Linked DNA regions of Homo sapiens: region 1 is linked to region 2. A link means that fine-mapping ties the variant in region 2 to the expression of a gene that starts in the linked region. Tissue or cell type: whole blood. Region 2 holds a variant in brackets; the other region holds the start of a gene. All regions are shown on one strand. Distances are between the middles of the regions.

Region 1 (2,905 bases), 23 kb after region 2:
GTCTAGAATGTAAAGCAGTTGTTACACTGAGTTCTGTAAAGCTGCGGTTAAGTAGGTTCACGAAGAAAGTTTACTGAGAGGTAGTTTCAACCAGGTTACCAAAGGACCTTAGAAATAATCAGCATTTAATTCTAACCACTCTCACCCACCAGTCAGGGTTGATGAACCACACTTCTGAATGAGAGAGAGAGAGAGAGAGAGAGAGAGAGAGAGAAGGCGGGGGGGGGGGGGGGGGAGGAAAGAGGGAGGGGGAGAGAAAAGGACGGAAGGAAGGAGGAAGGGCGGGAGAGAAAGGGAGAGGGAGAGGAAGGGGGGAGGAAGAGGGAGCGGGGAGAGAGAGAGAGAAGAGAGGGAGGGGGAGAGAGAGAAAGGGAGAGGGAGAGGAAGGGGGGAGGGAGAGGGAGTGGGGAGAGAGGGAGGGTGGGGAGAGAGAGAGAGAGAGAGAGAACTTCTTAGAGTACTTCTTCCCAGGGACCTGGTATTATCTGGTCCCTGTTAACACCTGCACTCAAAATAATTCACCTCTTTGAGATCAGATAATGAGTTAAAAATTCATTTAGGATGAGCTGAATGTCAGAGCATAAAAGCCTCAACTCTAACCTGCAGTGGAAGAGCCAGAGGTGAGTGATTTACACCTAACCCTCTGCAGAACAAGAACACAGTGTTCTGATTTCTAGGTTCCTGCAGGTTCCCTCAAACCTGCTGCTGAGACACACCCATGTTTCTAAAAGAATGCATGTACTAGATATTCCAGGCTCAGCCCAGATACTTCCATTCTTTAGTTCTCCTTCAGTCATTCATTCACTCAAGGAGTAAGTGTGGAGTGAATGTACACTGCAGATGCCACAGAGACTTAAAAAACCCTGAGCCCCTGCCTTCGGAGGGTCGTTCAGGCCATCTTTACGTTTCCCGAGGTGCCCATCCTACCTGGGGGCCCTACCCCGAGCAACAGTTCAATCATCTCTGCTGGGAGCTGCAGTAGGCGGCAGAAAGGAATGGTTAGGAGGGTTCAAATCTCGGCTCTACTACCACTTAAGCAGCTGTGCAAGAGGCTCCACGTCTCCGAACCTCAAGTGTCCTCATCTGTAAAGTGTTGAGAAGAATAGCACCTTCTTCACAAGGCTGTTAGCAGGCGGAGATTACGAACAATGCTGAGGGCTCGGTATACAGTAGCTCCTCTGCTGTTCCTCGTTTTGTTTTCAATTGTTGACCGAAAAGAAGGAAGGGAGACTGGCAGGAGACGCAGGAGCGGCGCGCCCCGCAAAGTCAGGGAGGTTCCTCGGCCTCACCTCTGGACTCCCCTCGGAATGGTCCGCAAGGACGGGGCCAGAGCCCCCCAAATCTCTAAGCGGTGGAGGGGAGCTGAACGGCTCCAGCTTGGGATTTGGGACTCAGGACGGCCGAGGAACCCGTGAAGGCCGCGACCGTGGCCTTCACCCTGCTAGGCCTCCTCAGTACCAACACTCACCATGATTGCGGCGGTGGCTGCTCCAGGTCTCGGACGTGGCAGCTCCCGGCGGCGCCTCGGAACAGCTCACTTCCGGCGCCGGGCCCGACGGGCCGTGGCGTAGGAGCCTCCGGGCAGCAACGCGCTCGGCTCGCACAGCAGTTCCGCGCCTTCCAGAGGGCGCGCCCCGCCCTCCCGTGGCCCAGCCCCTATCCTCCAGTGACGTGCGAGACCAGAGGGCTGGGGCTCTGGTTGCCGCAGTTACCCTGACCCGGAGGGCTTTGGAATCTGAAGCTCTGGTGGGTCTACTCTCCCGACCAAGTCTGCCCTTTTCCTGAGATCCATAAATGAAAGAAAGGATTAATATAACTATCGGCCGGGCGCGGTGGCTCATGCCTGTAATCCCAGAACTTTGGGAGGCTGAGCTGGGGGGTGGATCACCTGAGGTCAGGAGTTCGAGACCAGCCTGGCCAACATGGTGAAACCCCGTCTCTACCAAAAATACAAAAATTAGCCGGGCATAGTGGCGCGCGCCTGTAGTCCCAGCTACAGGCTGAGGCAGGAGAATCGCTGGAACCCGGGAGGTGGAGGTTACAGTGAGCCGTGACTGCACCATTGCACTCCAGCCTGGGCAACAGAGAGACACTCTTGTAAAAAAGAAAAAAATCTATCTATCTATCTATCTATCTATCTATCTATCTATCTATCTATCTATCATCTATCTATCTGCAGCTTCACCCGCCTCACTACGGCTCTGGGTGCGACTGGTCTTATGATGAATGTTGTAGGATGAGTGACATCTTAGGAGTAAGTAGACTGTCCTAGTGCTTCCTTGTTGTAGTCTCCCTCTCAGTACCCAAGGACTGGGACCAGGGCAGAGGAGGCCAGGGAATGCCCCTCGCCAGAGGCTGGGACCTCTGGCCCTGCCATCCCTAACCCCTATATAGGACTGCCCCTTCCAAACCGATCCCCTGGGGTCCTGAGTAAGTCCCATCAAGGAGACCCCCCTAGGCAATGAAGGATCTCAGCCAGGCTCCTGCAGCTAGAGCCCCAGACCTAATCCTCAGGGTCCCCAACCCCAGGTCTCTGGCTTCACAAGGTAGGGCAGCTGAAGGCTCCCCACAAGCGCAGTGAGAATGCCACACTGGAGGACAGAGCCTGGGCTCCCCGCCTCAGCCACATATGGTCTAGCCCTGGGCCCCTTGTGACATTAAGGAGGCAGATGAGCTGGGGGAGGCCTTGGCTCCCCTTGGGCAAGTCACAGTCCTTCAGTTTCCTCTGCTGAAACTGGGAGTAAGGACCCTAGCTGGAGATGGTCACTGCTTGAAGGAAGATGTTAAGGCTCAGAGAATGTGATAGACCCAAACTGTCAAGGAGCTTTGGAGGGGAGGCCAGGGGAGTAGGGTGTTAGAATTAAGGGCCAGGCCTCTGGGCAACTCTTCTACCCCACTGCAGCTT
Region 2 (2,905 bases):
CTGCTGGTGATTAATTCTTTCAGCTTTTATTTGAAAGAGTCTGTATTAAAATATATATATATTTTCACTAGGTATAGAATTTGAGGCTGACAGGTTTTTTTTTTTTTAATTTTTTCAGTACTTTAAAGATGTTAATTTTCTTATGGTTTGCCTACTTTCTGATGAGAAGTTGGCTGCTGCTCCTTTTTTTTTTTTTTTTTTTTTGAGACAGAGTCTTGCTCTGTCGCCCAGGCTGGGGTGCAGTGGCGTGATTTCGGCTCACTGCAACCTCCACCTCCCGGGTTCAAGCAATTCTCCTGCCTCAGCCTCCCGAGTAGCTGGGATTACAGGCACCTACCACCATGTCTGGCTAATTTTAGTAGGGATGGGGTTTCACCATCTTGGTCAGGCTGATCTCGGACTTCTGACCTCGTGATCCACCCGCCTCAGCCTTCCAAAGTGTTGGGATTATAGGCGTGAGCCACGGCGCCTGGCCTGCTGCCACTCTTATATTTGTTCTTCTGGATGGAATGTCTCTTTTTTTTCTGGTTGCTGGGAACATGGGCTATTCCCACCCCTATGTGAGCTCCAGCTGCTTGGTCTATTGGTTTCACCCTTCATATATGAAGGTTAGTACTTGTCCAAAGACTCCAGGAGACTCTTCAGCTCTCAGGAGCTTGCTCTGTGCAGCTTCCTCCTCTCGTCCTCTTCTGCCTTCAGTTCTGCCTTGGTCTTTTTTGTTTGTTTGTTTGTTTTTTGAGACAGAGCCTTGCTCTTTCGCCCAGGGCAGAGTGCAGTGGTGTAATCTTTGCTCACTGCAACCTCCGCCTCCCTGGTTCAAGCAATTCTCCTGCCTCAGCCTCCCGAGTAGTTGGGATTACAGGGGTGCAACACCACGCCCGGCTAATTTTTGTATTTTTAGTAGAGACAGGGTTTCACCATGTTGGCCAGGCTGGTCTCGAACTCTTGATCTCAGGTGATCTGCCCGCCTTGGCCTCCCAAAGTGCTGGGATTACAAGCGTGAGCCACCGCGCCCGGCCTGCCTTGGTCTTCCTGAACTCTGACTTCTGTCTCTTCAACTCCTGGAGACTACTAGACTCTGGAGTCTCTCTTTACCTTTTGGCCCAGAAACTGCTTCTGGGTAGTAGTAACCTGGTGCATTTGTTGTGCTTACCTGTTTCCCTTTTCCCAAACACTGCCTGTTGTCCTATGTCTGAAAGCAGTAGTTGTTTCATGTACTTTTCATGATTTCCTAGTTGTTGTTTTTTTTTTAAATTTATTATTTTATTTTATTTTATTTTTTTATTTTATTATTGTTATACTTTAAGTTTTAGGGTACATG[C/T]GCACAATATGTGGGTTAGTTACATATGTATACATGTGACATGCTGGTGTGCTGCACCCATTAACTCGTCATTTAGCATTAGGTATATCTCCTAATGCTATCCCTCCCCCGTCCCCTCCCCCCACAACAGTCCCCAGAGTGTGATGTTCCCCTTCCTGTGTCCATGTGTTCTCATTGTTCAATTCCCATCTATGAGTGAGAATATGCGGTGTTTGGTTTTTTGTTCTTGCGATAGTTTACTGAGAATGATGATTTCCAATTTCATCCATGTCCCTACAAAGGACATGAACTCATCATTTTTTATGGCTGCATAGTATTCCATGGTGTATATGTGCCACATTTTCTTAATCCAGTCTATCATTGTTGGACATTTGGGTTGGTTCCAAGTCTTTGCTATTGTGAATAGTGCCGCAGTAAACATACGTGTGCATGTGTCTTTATAGCAGCATGATTTATAGTCCTTTGGGTATATACCCAGTAATGGGATGGCTGGGTCAAATGGTATTTCTAGTTCTAGATCCCTGAGGAATCGCCACACTGACTTCCACAATGGTTGAACTAGTTTACAGTCCCACCAACAGTGTAAAAGTGTTCCTATTTCTCCACATCCTCTCCAGCACCTGTTGTTTCCTGACTTTTTAATGACTGCCATTCTAACTGGTGTGAGATGGTATCTCATTGTGGTTTTGATTTGCATTTCTCTGATGGCCAGTGATGATGAGCATTTTTTCATGTGTTTTTTGGCTGCATAAATGTCTTCTTTTGAGAAGTGTCTGTTCATGTCCTTCGCCCACTTTTTGATGGGGTTGTTTTTTTCTTGTAAATTTGTTTGAGTTCTTTGTAGATTCTGGATATTAGCCCTTTGTCAGATGAGTAGGTTGTGAAAATTTTCTCCCATTTTGTAGGTTGCCTGTTCACTCTGATGGTAGTTTCTTTTGCTGTGCAGAAGCTCTTTAGTTTAATTAGATCCCATTTGTCAATTCTGGCTTTTGTTGCCATTGCTTTTGGTGTTTTAGACATGAAGTCCTTGCCCATGCCTATGTCCTGAATGGTAATGCCTAGGTTTTCTTCTAGGGTTTTTATGGTTTTAGGTCTAACGTTTAAGTCTTTAATCCATCTTGAATTAATTTCCTAGTTGTCTATAGTGTGAGGGAAATTCTTATTTATTATTAAAGAGACAGGCTCTTGCTGTGTTGCCCAGGCTGATCTCAAACTCCTGGGCTCAAGAGATCCTCCTCCCTCAACCTTCCAAAGTGCTGGCCACTGCGCCCAGCCAGGGAAATTTTTTTTTTTTTAGACAGAGTCTCACTCTCTTGCCCAGGCTGGAGTGCAGTGGTGCAATCTCGGCTCACTGCAACCTCCACCTCCTGGGCTCAAGCGATTCTTGTGCCTCAGCCTCCTGAGTAGCTGGCACTACAGAGGCACACACCACTGCACCTAATTTTTGTATTTTTAGTAGAGATGGGGTTTTGCCATGTTGGCAGGCTGGTCTTGAATTTCTGGGCTCAAACATTCCGCCCGTCTTGGCCTTTCGAAGTGTGGGATTACAGTTGTGAGCCACCATGTTGGCTGGGAAATTCTTAC

What was found.
Region 1: it holds the start of SEC13, and the variant in region 2 is fine-mapped to the expression of SEC13 in whole blood (INTERVAL, PIP above 0.99).

What each region holds. Positions count from the first base shown.
Region 1 is chr3:10,319,582-10,322,486 of GRCh38, forward strand. SEC13 (SEC13 homolog, nuclear pore and COPII component) reads right to left here and starts at 1,531. Exons shown (of 9, transcript NM_183352.3): 1 at 1,469-1,531. The coding sequence starts at 1,471. RefSeq lists enhancers at 1,197-1,496, 1,244-1,839 and a silencer at 1,687-1,766.
Region 2 is chr3:10,296,132-10,299,036 of GRCh38, forward strand. No RefSeq gene overlaps it. Among named protein-coding and RNA genes, the nearest start is that of GHRL, 4.6 kb to the left of the region's middle. The variant C/T (reference allele first, on the strand shown) is at 1,322.